Linked DNA regions of Homo sapiens. The protein of the gene in region 2 purifies or fractionates together with the protein of the main gene of each other region. This does not show direct contact. Each region holds a gene or a part of one and is shown on either strand. Other genes may lie near its edges.

Region 1 (3,749 bases), on a different chromosome or scaffold from region 2:
TGCAAATGGCCTATAATAATTATAATTTTTCATTATTTCTGTTTTCCTAGCTGAAATTCAGCATGCCAGAAGCCCTGTCCCTACCTTTCATCTTTCCACACATCAGAGCCCCAACAAGAGAAATTCCATTACTTCCTAAACTCTAAGTAGCAAAAGAACTTCTTTCCCCTTCCAATTTGTTACCATCCATCACCTCAGCAGCATATGAAATTCTGACTCCTTACACCTCATGGAGGTGAGGCCAAAGCAGAATCATTTGCCAACCAGAGCCCCAGGCAAAACAGAGTTCTGCCATGGCAGTTTTACACATGAGAGAGTCTTAAATCAGACCCCTGGATTTCAGAGGCTGCTTTTCTTGAATGGCCAATGTTCTCATGATTGAAAACTGACACACACACAATTATGGTGTTCGGTGCAAACGCTGATAAATTTATCTCCACTGTTAAATAATGAGTACCTCACCATGTCCAACGGGTACAATGGAACATTTGTAGTGCATATATATACTACTACACGTACAGCAAGAACTCAAAAAATGCTGGCCAGGGAAAACAAGGGGAAAAGAAAGGCATGGCAAGGAAAAATTAAAACCCACAAAATTTGCTGGGGTCTGCAGAAAATACAATTTTAAAAAAAATCCCTTTGTCCTATTCCTGTTGGAATGTCTTTTCTGATGAGACCTTCCCTGTCTTCTATGATCCAAATCAAATACTGTAAACTTTGAAGCTTTTCCTAAAAACCTTAACCAGTTGGGGACTTCCTTCTCTGTGTTGCCATATACCTTGCATTAATTATTATAGTGCTTATTGAATTGCAACATTTACATGTTTGTTTCCCCAGTAGTTATCTCCCCAAATAATGGAATACTTCATTCGTCTTTGCATTCCCAATACCTTGGACAGTGCTTGGCACATAGAAGGGTCCAATAAATACTTGTTGAATGAATGAGTAATTGACTTCTTCAAATGTTCAAAGACACAGTAAAAGTAATAACTCACATGAACAAATCCCAAATGAATTGATTTTCCAGTATTGCTACTAAAAAAATGAAATTTAAGCATGAAATCTCAACGTGGCCTAAATAGCGGATCTGAATGCACTGATATCTAAGGTAGGTAACTTCAACCACATGGAAATAAGAAGTACACAGCAAATACAGTCATCCCTCAGTATCCACAAGGGGTGCGTTCCAGGACCGTCCCCCAAAATCCACAGATGCTCAAGTTTCTAATATAAAATGGTGTCCTATTTGCATATAACCTACGCATATCCTCCCACACACTTTAAATCATCTCTAGATTACTTATAATACCTAATAAAATGTAAATGCTATGTAAACAGTTGTTATACTCTATTTTTTAAGGAAATAATGACAAGAAAAAAAATCTGTACATGCTCAGTAGAGATGCAACTATCCTTCCCCCTACCCCCTCGAAAATTTTTGAACCACAGTTGCTTGAATCTACAGATGCAGGACCTGCAGACACAGGGGACTAACTGTCCTCTTCTGTCACATTTTTAGAAGGTTATAAGGAATACTCTTTATTGTATACATGACTATTCCAGTGATAGAAATTACATATTGTATTTGGCATTTCTGACATCTAAAGAAATATTTAAATCAAAATGAACTTAGATACAGCATTCAGCCATATTCAGAAGGGGAAAAAGGTAATGGGATGCTCCAATGCAGGTTGAATCAGAAGAGTTCCTTTGTGCTGCCCACCAACTGAATGGTTCAAGGGAGTGGGAACAGGCACTAGTCCATAAATCCTCAATATCTTAAGAGATAAATACAGAGGAATGGCAAGGTAGCGTAAGACATGTTGGGTTAAGTAACTGATAGGTCTTTGGGAGTTACCAAGCTTTTTGGCAGTTGATGAGAACCAACGTTAAAGCATGAGACTAAAAAATATGGAAATGCACCATCATCTAAAGTAAAATTTTTTAGTGGTTGTTTGCCTAATCTTGCAAAAAATATTACATTTTATGTTCATAATTTTTACTTCCTCAAATCATAATACTAGAAAAGACCCTAAAAATTATATGCTGAAACCCCCCTACTAAGAGCTATAAGGGCAAATGACTTGCCCAAGGTCATACTGCTATCAGAAGCACAGTCTGAATTCAAATTCAGGTTTCCAGGATCGCTCATCTAGAGTTCTTTCCACTAGATGAAGTGCTTCCACATGGCTTTCATTAGAGTTTAGTCCTACACACACACACACACACACACCCCTCTAGATACACAAGTATGTTTGTGTATATACGTACAGACACACCCATATATCTACATAAACAGTTTTATAGCACTTGAAAAAAAGGGTGCTTCAGCAATATACCCAGAAAGTACACCAGTTTATTGAAGCAAATATTAATAGTTCTACAAGGTATTTATGTTTTTGAATAACCCACTAGAAATCAAACTCCATAACTATTTTTTTACTTATTCAATATATTAATTATAGGAAGCATAATGGTTAAGAGCATGGGCTCTGGAGTGAAAAACCTGCGCCTAATCCTCTAATCTTAGCTGACATTTAATTAGCTGTGTACTCATGGGTAAATTTGCTTAACCTTTCTAAGCCTCAGTTTCCTCAACTGGAAAACTGAAAAATAACAGAATTGACTTGATATACTTCTTGTGAGGACTAACTAGATGATGAATGTAAAGTGCTTTGCCCAGGACCTGAAACTTAATTACTCAGTAATTTAGCTATTATTGCCATTATCACTGCCTACTTACTAATCTCTGGGCTCTCAACAAATGTGCCCCAAAGAAAGTTGGCAGTATCTCTCTCTCTCTCACACACACACACACACACACACACACAAACACACACTCATTCCTCACTCATAATTATCTATTCTTTGGAACATAGATTATAACAGATTAAAAACCCTGCTAAGAAAATGCCTTTTGTTTTTCTTTTTTGAAGAAAAACCTCTTATCCCAAATTGATATTTTAAATTATCCAAACATTCAGTGCAAATATTGAAGTCTAGAATTTAAAAACACAAATTGTTTTCTGTCTTCTAACGCTCTCTTACTCTTTAAAACAAAATTAGTTTGGTTGCCTAAACTCTGCAAAGAGGAGATACAATCAACTCAGAAAGAAAATGAACCCCCCTGCTTCCCACTGAGTACTCTTTAAGTGTTCAGACACAAAGGACACTATCTCATTTACGGCGACACGAGTGAGAACAAATTAATCCCAAGATTTATTGTGCATTTCTTTAAACTCTATTATAATGTGAAATTAACAAAGTTATAAAAGGTCCCTTTTCCCTACTATGCAATCATGCCTCAAGTAAGTCAAAGAAATGAATCTTTGAAGCTATTTTATTTCCTAAAACTTAATAATTTAAGCAGCTAACTTCTCTGGTCTAAATTATTTTACCAATTATTCATGTTCTATGCTCACTGGGCAACTGAAAGGATACAACGTTTACATACATTCATTTCAATAGTCAAATATGTCTAAACCAAGCTTATTTGCGTTACTTCCTTTTATAGAAAATCTCAGGTTCTCCTTAAAGGTGTTACTGTCTGAGTTCCTAGAGAACAAATCTCAGCTGCAGAATATATAATGTAATTTGAAAGTAAATCAATACTAGAAACAAATTATTTGATCATCATCTTATTATGAAAGATTAAACAGCCACAAATTTTATTTTACCAGGACTAAAATGCATTAAATTACATTTCACTGACATAAGATCAAAAGAACCTCATAAATACTATGCGA
Region 2 (3,749 bases):
AAAGATGGCATTTACCACCAAATGTCACTGACACCGCCAGGAAAAGAGTTGCTGGAGCCCTATACATTTTTAATTTCGATGAATCTAGACACCGTCGGCGGGTGCCAGGCTTCCACGAGAACAATTGACACCCTAACTGCTTCAAGATTAAGGCAGGCGATTCAAATCCGAAGGAAAAGTTGTCAATTATCAGAAAGAGAGAGCGCGAGAGAGGCGAAGGCAGATAAAAGCGATGTTATCAAACCGACCAGCTTGTTGCTTTTGTGTGTGTGTGTGTGTGTGTGTGTGTGTGTGTGTGTGTGTGTGCGGATTCGTTGTTAGGATAGAGAAAAACAGTTTTTAAAAGACACAGGAGGAGAGAAAGAAGAAAAAGCTTTCTCCACCTTCCGTCGGCTCGGTGCAATGGCTTTACGGCTCTCCAGCATAGTAAGCCCCGAGAGGCAGGCGGCTGTCGATGTTTACAATCGCGGGAGCTTCGGGTGCAAGAGTCCTTTCCTGACACAATCGCATTCAATCAACTATTTTAGGGCGAAATTGCAGGTGTCATTATGGAATTTAAAAAAATTCAAAAGGCAGGCGGGCGGGCAGGCAGCTGATCCAACAACGGGGGAAGAGGTTGCCGATCGGAGGCGCGGCAGCACAAGGCAAAGCCTTCCACATTTACGGGGGGAAAAAAAGGGGGGAAAGGGGAGGAGAAGGGGAGTGCGATTGCAACAGAGGGTGGGCGTTCGAAGTGCGACCCAGAATCCGCAGCTCCGAGACTTCCACATGCAAATTCCACGCCGAGCGCCGCGCTCACAAATGATTTTTAAAGAGCCAAATAAACACTGGATGGGATCCAAGGCGAGAGAGAGACGATCCAAAAGGGGGAGAATCGGCGAGAGGCGAACGGCGGGGAGACGCGAGGGAGGGGCGAAGTCCCGGCGGCGGGAGGAGAAAGTTGGTCGGCGGCGGAGGTCGGGGACCCCCCCCCTTCCCCGGCACAGCCCCCTCCCCGCAGCCCGGCTACTCACCAGCGAAAAGAGGTTGGAGTGACAATCCTCCAGGCTCGCCCCGTTCGCCACCCAGTTCGCTGCCGCAGTCATGATCCTCCGCGAGCCCGGCCGCCAGAGCGGGGCATGTCGGAGCGAGGCGTCCGAGGCGAGGCCGGGCCGGGCGGCGGCGCCTCGCCGGGGAGCGCGGGGCGGCCGGGCCGCCGCCGCCGCCGGGGGAGGGCGCGAGGGCCGGCGGGCAGGCGGGAGGCGCCGCGGCGACGCCGCGCCGGGGGCAGCGGGCCCGGGCTGGCGGGGGGGGCGCGCGCCCCGGGCCGGCGCTGCGGGCCGGCCACCGCCTCCGCCTTCCCTGCTCCTCAGCCGCCGCCGCCGCCGCTGCTGCCGCTGCCGCCGCCTTGTTTATCTCCAGCCACCGACTCCCCCTCGGCCCCCGCCGGCGCGCGAGGGGAGGCGAGCCCCGGAGCCGCCGCCGCCGCCTCGGAGCCGCCGCCGCCGCGGAGCGCGAACTCGCGAAGGGGGGGGTGCGGACGAAGCCAGCGGGCGACCCCGGCAGCCGAGCGACGTCCCCTCCTTCCTCTTCCTCCCCCACCCCCCCCTCCTCCCCAGTCAGCCTCGCTTCTCCTCCCTCCCCGGGCTCGCTTGCTCTGACAGCAATGGCGGCCGCCGACCGCGGCTCGGCCCGCCATTGGCTGGCGCTTGGTCACGTGACGGGCGCCGGCCGCGCGGGGGGAGCGAGGGGCGGGCGGGGGAGGGGTCCGGAGTGGCGGCGGCGGCGGCGGCTCGCGGGAGGCGCTGCTGAGCTGAGCGCGGCCGGGTCCTCCGGCCGGGAAGAGGGAGGGAGGGAGGCAGAGAGGGAGAGAAAGAAGTGCGGGCGGCCGGGCTCCCCGGCGGGCGGCGGACTGCCGGCCCGTGGCTGCCGTGGGCTGCCCCTCGTGGCCGCCCCGCCCCCTCGCGGTGCACTGATCGTGGCGGGGCGGGACCGTGGGTCCCGGGCGCGCCCGTGGTGGCCGCGGAGGAGGGCGCGGGACCCCCGGCCTGTGCCCTCGCAGCCCAGGCCGGCTGGCGTGGCGCGGCGGCCGCGATGTGGGCCAGGCAGCGGGTCCGAGTGCCCTGGGGAATGTGTCCTCAGAGGCTCGCGCCGCCGTCCGCCTTTTGCAGAGGAGAAAACTAAAGCACAAAGGGATTAAATCACTTGCCCGAGGTCGCACACTTGGGAAGAGGAGTCCAGATTCGAACCCGCGCACAGTGAAGCCAAGCTCTTGGACAAGGTTTCACAGGCTTCGCCCAGGGATATTCACGGCTGCCATAGACGGAGCGCTTACTGTGTTCCAGACACTGTGCGTTTAATACAGAAATGTTTATTGAGCCCTTACTCCTAGTTACTGTGTGCACTCATTCATTCATTCATTCATTCATTACATAAATGTTTCCTGAGCTCCTGCTGTGTGCCAGAATCTGTTATAACTTCCAGGCACTGTGCTAAGGCCGTGTTGGGAGCAGACCCTTCTTCCTGGCGTCATTCATTGGATAACCAACATTTCCTGAGTGTATATGGCCTGGGAGTCCGGAGGAGTGCTGCTATGAAGAGAAGCTCTCCCAGTCCTCAAGAAATGGATCCCCGAAAAGGGGGAGGAGAAAACAATGTCTTCACTAATACGCCTCCAAACATGGAACAATCAGCTGTTTCAGGTAGATTAAGCTAAAAGAGGAAGAGTGGATGGCTGGCACAGTGGCTCACGCCGGTAATCCTAGCCGAGGTTTAAGACCAGCCTGAGCAATGTAGCAAGAACCCCCGTCATGACAAAAAAAATAAAATACAAAAATACAAAAATTAGCCAGGCGTAGTGTGGCATGTGCCTGTAGCCCTAGCTACTCGAAAGGCTGAGGTGGGAGGATAACTTGAGCCCTGGAGGCAGAGGCTGCAGTGAGCCCAGTGAGCCGAGGTCGCATCACCGTACTCCAGCCTGAGTGACAGAGAGAGGCCCTGTCTCAAAAAAAAAAAAAAAAAAAAAAAGGAAGAGTAGAAAGCAGGGAAGAGATGAGAGTGTATAATAAGAGAAGTCTTAAGACACGTGAACTGAGTTTTGGAACTACCACAAATACTGCTAAAGCAAAACTCATGAGCAACATGTTATAATGTGTATTATCATGCAACATATTGTTACAATGAATGTCGTTACCTACATTATTTCACATAATCCGCAGAACAACCACCTAAAGTAGATACTGTTATTATTCTTAGGCTGTAATTAGGTAAAACTCAGAGGTGTGCAGTGACATCTCCAATCTCTCAGTTAGTACATGGCTCAAACTCAGGTCCTTCTGACTCCAGAGCCCGAGCATGAATTCAGGAGGCTCCTTAGAAAGATGCCTCTGGCTGGCTTTGCCATCCCTCTAATTGCATTATTTTGACCAACATAGTTTAACTCTTTGAGCCTCATTTCCTAATCTCAAAAATTGATCCTGATTGCTGACCCAATGACCTCAGGCCAATATTGAGAATTTCTATTAAGATACTGTTGATGAGCGGATGCAGTCGCTCACGCTTGTAATCCGTGCACTTTGGAAGGCCAAGGCGGGCAGACCAACTGAGGTGAGGAGCTCGAGACCAGCCTGGCCAACATGATGAAACCCTGTCTCTACTAAAAATACTAAAAATACAAAAATTAGCCGGGTGTGGTGGCGTGTGCCCGTAGTCCCAGCTGCTTGGGAGGCTGAGACAAGAGAATCGTTTGAACCCAGGAAGCAGAGGTTGCA

Evidence for each region.
Region 1: the proteins of MED13L (region 2) and CDK8 purify together in Homo sapiens (affinity purification with mass spectrometry; 8 studies listed by BioGRID and IntAct, with this or other methods). This does not show direct contact.

What each region holds. Positions count from the first base shown.
Region 1 is NC_000013.11:26,256,980-26,260,728, reverse strand, and holds part of CDK8 (cyclin-dependent kinase 8), read right to left. Parts: intron 1-3,749.
Region 2 is NC_000012.12:116,276,047-116,279,795, forward strand, and holds the start of MED13L (mediator of RNA polymerase II transcription subunit 13-like), read right to left. Parts: upstream 1,648-3,749; 5' UTR 1,086-1,647; coding exon 1,014-1,085; intron 647-1,013; exon of another isoform or gene 426-646; coding exon of another isoform or gene 384-425; intron 1-383. UniProt on the Homo sapiens protein: Component of the Mediator complex, a coactivator involved in the regulated transcription of nearly all RNA polymerase II-dependent genes.